2 linked regions of the Homo sapiens genome follow. The protein of the gene in region 2 interacts with the protein of the main gene of each other region in a pairwise test. Each region holds a gene or a part of one and is shown on either strand. Other genes may lie near its edges.

Region 1 (7,036 bases), about 38 Mb from region 2:
GTCCTTTGCCTATCTCAGAACATTTTAGCAAAGATAGCTAAGATATTATCTATAAAATTTGTAGGTAGAAGACTCTATAAGCACCTAGTATCATTACTTAGCCTTATTAATATCAATGGTAATTCTGTGACCAAATTATAGTTATTAAATATGCACTGCCACCATTTTATCATTATCATTATTTATAATTATAATAATTTGAGAAGTTGACAGATTATGGAATACTGTTTTATCTTAGGACGAGATATTCTTATATCTTTTGACAACCCAGAGAGAGACTTTCTTCTCTTAGTGGTAAGAAATTCTAACAGAAGGCCAGGAACAGTGGCTCACACCTGTAATCCCAACTCTTTGAGAGGCCAAAGCAGGAGAATTGTTTGAGCCCAGGAGTTGGAGAGCAGCCTGGGCAACATGGGGAAACCCCATCTCTACAAAAAAATCCAAAAATTAGCTGGATGTGGTGGCACATACCTGTAGTCCTAGGTACTCGGGAGACTGAGGTGGGAGGATCACCTGAGCCTGGGAGGCGGAGGCTGCATTGAGCTGTGATGGTGCCACCACACTCCAGCCTGGGTGACAGAGCAAATCCTGTCTTGAAAAAAATAAAGGGTTAGGTGGGAGGAGAGAAAGAGAGAGAGGAAGGGAAGGAGGAAGTTCCAACAGTGAGCCAAGCTTCCAGGGATGGAGAGCAGTGCCCACCCCCAATGCTGCTTCTCTGGGTCCTTAGACAAGGCTGTAACAGTACTTCCAGGCAGACCTCTGTCACAGGCCGCTCTGAAGATTGTTTCTCCAAAGGGCTGATTGTATGTCGTAATTCGAGTGTAACTTAATCTTATTTGATGGAGCTTTGTTCACAAAGCAAGTGGCCTGAAAACTAGTTCTTTGCATTCTAATGAGAGTCTTTGGTTTTCAGTCAGAAGCGATTTGACATCTTTATGCTCCTCTCCCTTTGTTGTGGAAAAAAAACATCCTTTCCCAAGCATGTGATACATCTCGAATTTAACCTGGAGTCACTTAAGTCTGGACATGGCTTGTAGGATGTTTTATTGTTCTTCATTTTCCCCTTTTAGGTGAATCGTGACTACAGTTTTAGTCATTCTATCTCTAATAACTGATTGAAAGACACCATTTTTTTAAGAATTCAGAAGAAATCTACATTAAAAAATCTACATTATGTTATTGACTATCTTTGCTATTTTCTGGGGAAATGTATGAAAGAAAGTGGAAGGGCAAATAAGTCCGACAGCACTCACTTTCCCCATAGAGTTTTATGACCCTGAAACAGGCCAATTAACAACCCTTTGGTATACCTCCCCAAATTTCTTATTTATACAATTGGTTAATTAATGGTTTACACTGATCTGTATTGTACTTAATGTATCTGGAAAGCTGCAAGCCTGTGGTTCTTAAGTTCTACTTTTATATGCACTGATGTTCCATGAGTGACCAGCGTGTTCCGGTGCTAATAACTTTTCCCAGTTCTCAGGAATTTAATTTAATGAATGGAATGCTTAAGGCCTTTTTCCCAGAAAACAATTCTAGATCTTTGGCTTTGTTATACGTATCATAATCTAGTGAAAAATGTCATTTTGTGTGGGCTAGAATTTTCTATTCAGTTATTTTAATTACTTCTAGTGTTTTAAGTAGTTTCCAGGTTCTCTGCCACCCAAAAAACTTTGAAAATCACTTGTCATTGCTGTACAAACTACATTTCACAGATGCTCTGAAGATGTTTTTATATCTCATCTCCCTTGGAAGTTTTTAGTTGTCTCAAAGGAAGGCAGACAACATCATAAAGAGTGATGCATATGTCATTTTTGATAACATACCACTTCCCAACATTTCACCTCTGTCTTTTATCTTTTCCCTATTTTTCTTTATATTTTCATTTTTCTGTCATTAATTGAATATCTACTATTGCCAATCATATGCTAATCCTCACATCAATTATGCCGATGAAGACACAAAGAATCAATTATGCTAAGTAGCTCACCTTAGGTCCCATAAGTAATAAATGCCAAGGTCAAGAGGATTCCCCTCAAAGACCATAAATTTCCATCTTCCTGTATTGCTTCTTTCTTTCTCCTCTACCACATGCTCTCCTTTGCCTTTCCCTTTTTTCTCTATTTAATTGTAGTAAAATACACATAACAAAATTTACCATATTATCCATTTTTAGGTGTGCAGTTTAGTGACATTAAGTACATCCATATTGTATAACCATCAACATGATCTATCCTCAAAACTCTTTCTAACTTGCAAAACTGAAACTATACCCATTAAATAACTCCCATTCCCGTCCTCCCACCGGCCACTGGCAACCACTCTTCTCCTTTCTCTCTCTGTGAATTTAACTACTAGTCTAGGACCTCAGATGTGTAGAATCAACTAGTAATTATCTTTTTGTGTCTGGCTTATTTTACTTGACATAATGTCCTCTGAGTTCATACATGTTGTAGCATGTGTCAAAATTTCCTTCCTTTTTAAGGCTGAATTAATATTCCATTGTATGTGTATACCACATTTTGTTTGTCTGTTCATTCACTGATAGATACGTGGGTGGCTCTCACCTTCTAGCTGTTGTGAATAGTGCTGCTGTGAACATAGGTGCACTGCCTTTCATTTTGAGTACACTTCCTCCCTCATCTTCTACATAAATTATAGGCTCGTTTGTGGTACCCACTGACATTGCTTAATCCCGGTGACAACACTGAGACCTAGAAAATGCCTGCCTAACTGTGGAAGCTGTGGACTGTTTCACTGATTTTTCTTGTCAGCGTATTTCCCCGCCTTGGTTTTGCCTTTCTTCTCAAGTTAGATTTTGCATGGTAATGAATGCATATTCTGTCATTTTCTCCTAAGTCCATAGATTTCTGTCTTTTGCTACCCTTGATGGAACTCCAATGGAACTCTAAAAACCTTCAGAGGAGTTGTAGAAGAGCCAATCAACATGTGTGTGTTGAATGCAAGAGATGAGGCAAGGTGTATTAGTCCGTTTTCATGCAGCTGATAAAGACATACCTGAGACTGAGAAGAAAAAGAAGTTTAATTGCACTTACAGTTCCACATGGCTGGGGAGGACTCAGAATCATGGTGGGAGGCAAAAGGCACTTCTTTTTTTTTTTTTTTTTTTTTGAGATGGAGTCTTGCTCTGTCACTCAGTCTGGAGCACAGTGGCATGATCTCAGCTCACTGCAACCTCTGCCTCCCAGGTTCAAGCAATTTCCTGCCTCAGCCTCCTGAGTAGCTGGGATTACAGGCATGCGCTACCACGCCTGGCTAATTTTTGTATTTTTAGTGGAGATGGGGGTTTCACCATGTTGGCCAGGCTGGCCTCGAACCCCTGACCTTGTGATCCACTGTCCTCAGCCTCCCAAAGTGCTGAGATTACAGGCGTGAGCCACCGCATCCAGCTGAAAGGCACTTCTTACCTGGTGGCGGCAAGAGAAAATAAGGAAGATGCAAAAGCGGGAACCCCTGATGAAACCATCAGATCTCATGATACTTATTCACTATGATGAGGACAGTATGGGGGAAGCTGCCCCCATGATTCAAATTATCTCTCATCGGGTCCTTCCCACAGCATGTGGGAATTATGGGAGTACAATTCAAGATGAGATTTGGGTGGGGACACATCCAAACCATATCACGAAGTGTATGAGATAGCACACTGGGTGGAGGTGGGAGGGTGGGTAGTAGAAGTAGAGGTTCAGTTCCCAACTTCAGTGAACTTTCAACTTGCAAATACTCAGTACTTTATCTGTTAGTTTACATAACTTGGAAATTTTATTATCAGACTTATTCAGTATGTCAGTTATTTTCCACTGGAATGATTTTTGCTCCTGCTCCCACCCTGGACATTTGGCAATGACTAGAGATGTTTCTGGTTGTCACAACTATGGCAAAAACTACAATTACTTTTGCACCAACCTCATGGTATAGGGAATGCTACTGCCATACAGTGGGTGGAGGTCAGGGGTGCCGCTAAATATCTCATAGTGCATGGAACAGCCCCTACAACAGAGAATGATCCAGCCTAGATGTCAGTAGTACCACGGTTGTGAAGCCCTGCAATATATGTAGTATTGCTCAGTTTATATTAGTTAATCACCTGATATGGAACATAAAAATTCACCACTAGTTTTCGCACAGAAAACCTCTTTATGATAATATAGTAACTTGAAATCAAGCTAGCATTTCCCATGCTATAATAGTCATTATTTGCTAATCCAGGATGTAAAATTTTGAAGGCTTAAGTGGCATTTTAGTATCTAAGGAAAATTTTCTAGCAAAAATTTTATTTTAAAAACATAACTTGGTATTTAATATATTGGCAGTTAATATCTATTTTTAAAATAAGGAACCATCAGTGTCCCTCATAAACTCTCTTTGGATTTGAAAAGCATTGTGTTACTGCCTCCTGTATGTTTCTCTCTTAATAGACTAACACTATATTTAGATCGCAGTCCCTATACAGATATCTTATGAGGTAAAGTTGGAAGCTCTATAGGGTGTTTTGCAGCATTGATTTAAAATATCCCATGGATAACCCACTTGCATAGAAGATGATACTAAAAATATAAACAAAATTTATTCCCAATCTGCCCATTTTCTTCAGCTGGAATACTAGCTAGGAAACTCCTAATTTAGTTTTCTGCTTTATGGTACTGTGTTTAAGCAGATTCCTTTCTTCCATAAAATGAAACTTGAACAAGTGGAGTGAGCTGAAAAGACAATTGATTGGAAGTGTCTTGAGAGGCATAGAGATGCCTGAGACCCAGTCACTGCCCATATGTCTAAACCAGAATAATTGCAAGACATGTAATAATATACAGAATAATTGCAAGGCATGTAATGAGACCAATATGTCTTCATCACAAATCCTCTGTTGTTTGTACATCTCCAGCACTGAGCAATGAAAACTGATGTTCATAGCAAGATTTCTGAAATTCTTTCCTAATCATCAAGGGAAGAATAAACTTGGGCTTGATGTTCTAGTTATTTGGTTATGTCCCAAAGGTTGTTACCAAAGGTAGTTCTCGCACATGGACAGGAATCGATCCTCAGACATCTGAACCACACAAAACTATATTCAGGAATCCTTGTCTTTCTGCTGCAGGACCTGGGAGGAAGGCAAGGTGCTCATCTTTGATGACTCCTTTGAGCACGAGGTATGGCAGGATGCCTCATCTTTCCGGCTGATATTCATCGTGGATGTGTGGCATCCGGAACTGACACCACAGCAGAGACGCAGCCTTCCAGCAATTTAGCATGAATTCATGCAAGCTTGGGAAACTCTGGAGAGAGGCTGCCTTTCTGGTTCCATCTCCTTGGGTGTGAGGATAGAATTTCGAACACCAAGAGTCAATTCCCTTGACTTGCAGCCCGAGTAATTCAAAGCCTCCTCCTAGGGTCAGAAGACACTAAAGGGAATATTTGCCTCGCTGCAATTCATTTAGGAAACACCCTGCTGTGTGTCATCTCATGACAGCACTGGTCTTCTGCCAGTATTTAAGGTGAACATTTGATAGCTTCTACCTTACCAGCCAAAGATATTTTTTCCACATAGAATAGGTCTAATTCAATGTATAATGAGAACATATGTAGAAACTGTGAATGGATTGCTTTAGTTTGTAATTTTTCTATGCAGTTATATTTTTCTAGTGTAGCTAGACTATTTTGTCATCATGTACCACTACATTTTTGTTTATTTTAATGACAAGCTGTATAAATGCTTTACTTCTAGCTATTTAATGGTAGCATTACTGGGGAACTCAGACTTCCCTCTTTTAATTCTTCTTAGTAAAAGATACTCATGAAAAAAGCAGTTTTATTTTCCTAACAAAAAAGAAAGAGCTCATTATGTCAGTGTCTATGAACTGTACCCATCCCAACTCTCAAATCGTTTGGTTTTTTTTATCTTGATTGAGATCCTCTTCTCACTATGCTAGTGGTGGAGATATTGACAAAATCCTATTTCTTTCAAAGAGGAACTTTTCACACCGAAAAAAGAGCATGGAATTATTTTATATTGTTATAAAAATCCCAGATGCAAATTTTTTTAATGCCAATTATTAGAGCTTCTGGGGAAAAAGTATAGTTCACGGAAATAAAACTATGTTCTTTCAGGGTTGGGTGGATAGGTGGCTGCTAGGGTGTCTGGCTCCTGGCGGCTTTGCCATCCATGAGGCAAGGGCTGGGAACACAGTGTCTTTGCCTATGGTAGATCCATGTGAATGTCAGGAAGCCAGCTCTTCAGTCTTGGAGATGATTTCTGCTACAATTCTGTAGAAAGATTAAGGATGGCAGAGTAAAAGGTTACCAAGAATGCCAGGATGTTTTTCTTGGGCGTAGGAGGTCCAGATTACTTTCCTTTTTGATGAAAGAGTTTGGAAGACTGTCCCATCTCTCTGGCTTGAGAAATCTCTGCCATTTTAAACATCACTGTGAAATAGCAATTATTATCATCTGTATTTAGTTTTAACATTACCCACAACATAGAAATAATAGGTAAAAATCGTCTTGCCTACTCATTCCAAAGATGATCAAGTCATTAATCTAGCAAAGTATTCATGTATCAGATTTTGTATATTTTGAATCAAAGCTAACTAGGAATGTTAGATATAAGAATGTAATGATATTCATGCACTGAATTCTAAGCCAATATGAACAAAAATGCTGCATGAATGGCACATATAGGTCACCAAAGTTCATTCACAGGTAGAAAAAACTTGTGCTTTCTTTTCCATCTAAAAACAAAAGGAGACTTTCTTTATCTCATTTAAAGAACAGCTCTTTGAAATTGAAATTGACCCTTTTTGCTTGACCTTAAGGAGATTAGCTTCCAGTAGATGAGTTTGCAAAATACTTTTCCTGTTCTTTTGTTTTGCTGGTATTGAAAACATCCCACTAAATCAGATGAAGAGGCATGGGAGGAAAAATATCCAAATTAATTACTAAAATCGAGAAGAGAAGGCAAACTCTTGAAAAGTAAAAAGGTGTTTGTGACCTTCAGTATTTATTGAACAGAGGAAAT
Region 2 (4,435 bases):
TGTGCTATAGACCATCTGGACCCTAAACTGTCTTCTCCCATCTCTTCTCCCCACTCTACCTCATCCTCTCTGCACCCTATCATTGACCCTAATGACTCTGTCCGTCCCCTCATCCTCTCTCCTCCTTTGTTCAGGGCCTGATGTAGCCCCCGCCTGCCCCTGAGGACCTCCTGAGGGGCTGGCCTGTCCTGCACAGCACCACTAACCCCAGTGGGCTAAGGAGCTCTTGACCTGTGCCTCAGCCCAATTTGCAGAGCTGTTGTGTAAACTACATACGAATGCCAAAGACTTAATGCAAAAAAGAGTGGAAAATATTTCACTCATAATTTTTGTATATTGATTGTATATTAAATTATATTTTAAATATATTCAGTACCATACATTAAAATGAATGTCACTTGTTTCTGATGTTCTTTAAAATAAGGCTGTTGGAAAACATAGCCTCGTGTTCCTGACCCTGTCTATCTCTGAGGACGGCGAGGTGCATCATGTTGCACACACGTCTCATTTAATCCCTCATCGTCCCGAGATCTGGGCAGCATTGCTCGGTCTTTGGGTTCACTTCTTGCTCAGAGTCTGTTTGCCTCCACCTAGCTCTGCCCCAGCCCCAGGAAGTGAGGCCGAGCTGGGTGAAAACAGAGGTCCCCTGTCCCAGGCCCTGTGCTTTCCACAGATGCAGAAGTGGCCGCCCTGGGACCTGCTCCCATGACAAGCGCAGCCCAGGCAGCCTCCTCCCTCCTCTAAGCTCCCGCTGCAGCCACTGTCTCTCCCTCCCTCGGACTCTCACGCACTTTACTTTCTGCCTCTGTAACGTCCATCCATACTCCCCTGGTGGGTTCTCAGCCCTGTATGAGGGCTGATTCTCTGACGACTTTGACTCCCCGCAGTGCCTTGCGTGTGGGGGAGGCCAGGCAGTGTGGGCGCGCTCTCTGTGGATGGGAAGCGGGTGGGCACTGGAGCGGCAGGTTTGCCCGCACACGGGGCTCTCCAGGTTCCCCGCCTTGGGTTCTGGGCCTGATGTGGAATCCTCTGCCCTTTCTGAGTCCCAACTCACCTGGCTGTCTCTGTGGCTTTCTCCACCAGCTCTGAGACAGTGCTTCGATGACTTTGCAGACTTGGTGCCCTTTGACTCCTGGGAGCCGCTCATGAGGAAGTTGGGCCTCATGGACAATGAGATAAAGGTGGCTAAAGCTGAGGCAGCGGGCCACAGGGACACCTTGTACACGATGCTGATAAAGTGGGTCAACAAAACCGGGCGAGATGCCTCTGTCCACACCCTGCTGGATGCCTTGGAGACGCTGGGAGAGAGACTTGCCAAGCAGAAGATTGAGGACCACTTGTTGAGCTCTGGAAAGTTCATGTATCTAGAAGGTAATGCAGACTCTGCCATGTCCTAAGTGTGATTCTCTTCAGGAAGTCAGACCTTCCCTGGTTTACCTTTTTTCTGGAAAAAGCCCAACTGGACTCCAGTCAGTAGGAAAGTGCCACAATTGTCACATGACCGGTACTGGAAGAAACTCTCCCATCCAACATCACCCAGTGGATGGAACATCCTGTAACTTTTCACTGCACTTGGCATTATTTTTATAAGCTGAATGTGATAATAAGGACACTATGGAAATGTCTGGATCATTCCGTTTGTGCGTACTTTGAGATTTGGTTTGGGATGTCATTGTTTTCACAGCACTTTTTTATCCTAATGTAAATGCTTTATTTATTTATTTGGGCTACATTGTAAGATCCATCTACACAGTCGTTGTCCGACTTCACTTGATACTATATGATATGAACCTTTTTTGGGTGGGGGGTGCGGGGCAGTTCACTCTGTCTCCCAGGCTGGAGTGCAATGGTGCAATCTTGGCTCACTATAGCCTTGACCTCTCAGGCTCAAGCGATTCTCCCACCTCAGCCATCCAAATAGCTGGGACCACAGGTGTGCACCACCACGCCCGGCTAATTTTTTGTATTTTGTCTAGATATAGGGGCTCTCTATGTTGCTCAGGGTGGTCTCGAATTCCTGGACTCAAGCAGTCTGCCCACCTCAGACTCCCAAAGCGGTGGAATTAGAGGCGTGAGCCCCCATGCTTGGCCTTACCTTTCTACTTTTATAATTCTGTATGTTATTATTTTATGAACATGAAGAAACTTTAGTAAATGTACTTGTTTACATAGTTATGTGAATAGATTAGATAAACATAAAAGGAGGAGACATACAATGGGGGAAGAAGAAGAAGTCCCCTGTAAGATGTCACTGTCTGGGTTCCAGCCCTCCCTCAGATGTACTTTGGCTTCAATGATTGGCAACTTCTACAGGGGCCAGTCTTTTGAACTGGACAACCTTACAAGTATATGAGTATTATTTATAGGTAGTTGTTTACATATGAGTCGGGACCAAAGAGAACTGGATCCACGTGAAGTCCTGTGTGTGGCTGGTCCCTACCTGGGCAGTCTCATTTGCACCCATAGCCCCCATCTATGGACAGGCTGGGACAGAGGCAGATGGGTTAGATCACACATAACAATAGGGTCTATGTCATATCCCAAGTGAACTTGAGCCCTGTTTGGGCTCAGGAGATAGAAGACAAAATCTGTCTCCCACGTCTGCCATGGCATCAAGGGGGAAGAGTAGATGGTGCTTGAGAATGGTGTGAAATGGTTGCCATCTCAGGAGTAGATGGCCCGGCTCACTTCTGGTTATCTGTCACCCTGAGCCCATGAGCTGCCTTTTAGGGTACAGATTGCCTACTTGAGGACCTTGGCCGCTCTGTAAGCATCTGACTCATCTCAGAAATGTCAATTCTTAAACACTGTGGCAACAGGACCTAGAATGGCTGACGCATTAAGGTTTTCTTCTTGTGTCCTGTTCTATTATTGTTTTAAGACCTCAGTAACCATTTCAGCCTCTTTCCAGCAAACCCTTCTCCATAGTATTTCAGTCATGGAAGGATCATTTATGCAGGTAGTCATTCCAGGAGTTTTTGGTCTTTTCTGTCTCAAGGCATTGTGTGTTTTGTTCCGGGACTGGTTTGGGTGGGACAAAGTTAGAATTGCCTGAAGATCACACATTCAGACTGTTGTGTCTGTGGAGTTTTAGGAGTGGGGGGTGACCTTTCTGGTCTTTGCACTTCCATCCTCTCCCACTTCCATCTGGCATCCCACGCGTTGTCCCCTGCACTTCTGGAAGGCACAGGGTGCTGCTGCCTCCTGGTCTTTGCCTTTGCTGGGCCTTCTGTGCAGGACGCTCAGCCTCAGGGCTCAGAAGGTGCCAGTCCGGTCCCAGGTCCCTTGTCCCTTCCACAGAGGCCTTCCTAGAAGATGCATCTAGAGTGTCAGCCTTATCAGTGTTTAAGATTTTTCTTTTATTTTTAATTTTTTTGAGACAGAATCTCACTCTCTCGCCCAGGCTGGAGTGCAACGGTACGATCTTGGCTCAGTGCAACCTCCGCCTCCTGGGTTCAAGCGATTCTCGTGCCTCAGCCTCCGGAGTAGCTGGGATTGCAGGCACCCGCCACCACGCCTGGCTAATTTTTGTATTTTTAGTAGAGACGGGGTTTCACCATGTTGGTCAGGCTGGTCTCGAACTCCTGACCTCAGGTGATCCACCTTGGCCTCCGAAAGTGCTGGGATTACAGGCGTGAGCCACCAGCCAGGCCAAGCTATTCTTTTAAAGTAAGCTTCCTGACGACATGAAATAATTGGGGGTTTTGTTGTTTAGTTACATTAGGCTTTGCTATATCCCCAGGCCAAATAGCATGTGACACAGGACAGCCATAGTATAGTGTGTCACTCGTGGTTGGTGTCCTTTCATGCTTCTGCCCTGTCAAAGGTCCCTATTTGAAATGTGTTATAATACAAACAAGGAAGCACATTGTGTACAAAATACTTATGTATTTATGAATCCATGACCAAATTAAATATGAAACCTTATATAAAAAGAGGTGTGGTTTTTGTCTCCCGCCCCCCAACCTCCCCTCCTCCTGTGAATCAGCTCTGAGTGACAGGAAACCAGGGCTGTGCTCCTGCTGGGACTCCTTCCTTCCTCCCTCCCCTCTGTTTTCAGGCTTGGCCTCCTGGGGGTGTTTCCTGAATCCGACTCCCCAGAGTTTAAAGAGCTAGGTTCCTGGGGACTGGGATTCATACCTCCTTCCCCTCTCTCTCCTGCCTGCTCCTCCCTCTGGGGACAGGGACACCAATGTTGGCCTGGCTCACCCACAGCCTCCCAGGAGAGTTCTCTGGGCTGCCGGGTTGCATCTGGTTCCGACAGCTCTCGGGGAATGGGCGGTGGGTCCCTGAAGTTGGGGGGCCGGCCCTGTTTCTCAGGGAATCCCGTGGTCACTCTCCTATGGCTTCCTACAGCCCTGGGTCGACCTTCACTTTCTCTGCCCCGGCCTTCCCTGCATCCCCACCAGGGTACCCAGGTTGCTCAGCGCTTCAG

The links.
Region 1: the proteins of TNFRSF10B (region 2) and ASPH interact in binary tests that used the Homo sapiens proteins (3 or more experiments, as listed by UniProt).

The regions. Positions count from the first base shown.
Region 1 is NC_000008.11:61,501,593-61,508,628, reverse strand, and holds part of ASPH (aspartyl/asparaginyl beta-hydroxylase), read left to right. Parts: intron 1-5,119; coding exon 5,120-5,270; 3' UTR 5,271-7,036.
Region 2 is NC_000008.11:23,019,633-23,024,067, reverse strand, and holds the end of TNFRSF10B (tumor necrosis factor receptor superfamily member 10B isoform 1 precursor), read left to right. Parts: intron 1-1,083; coding exon 1,084-1,397; 3' UTR 1,398-3,935; downstream 3,936-4,435. UniProt on the Homo sapiens protein: Receptor for the cytotoxic ligand TNFSF10/TRAIL. The adapter molecule FADD recruits caspase-8 to the activated receptor.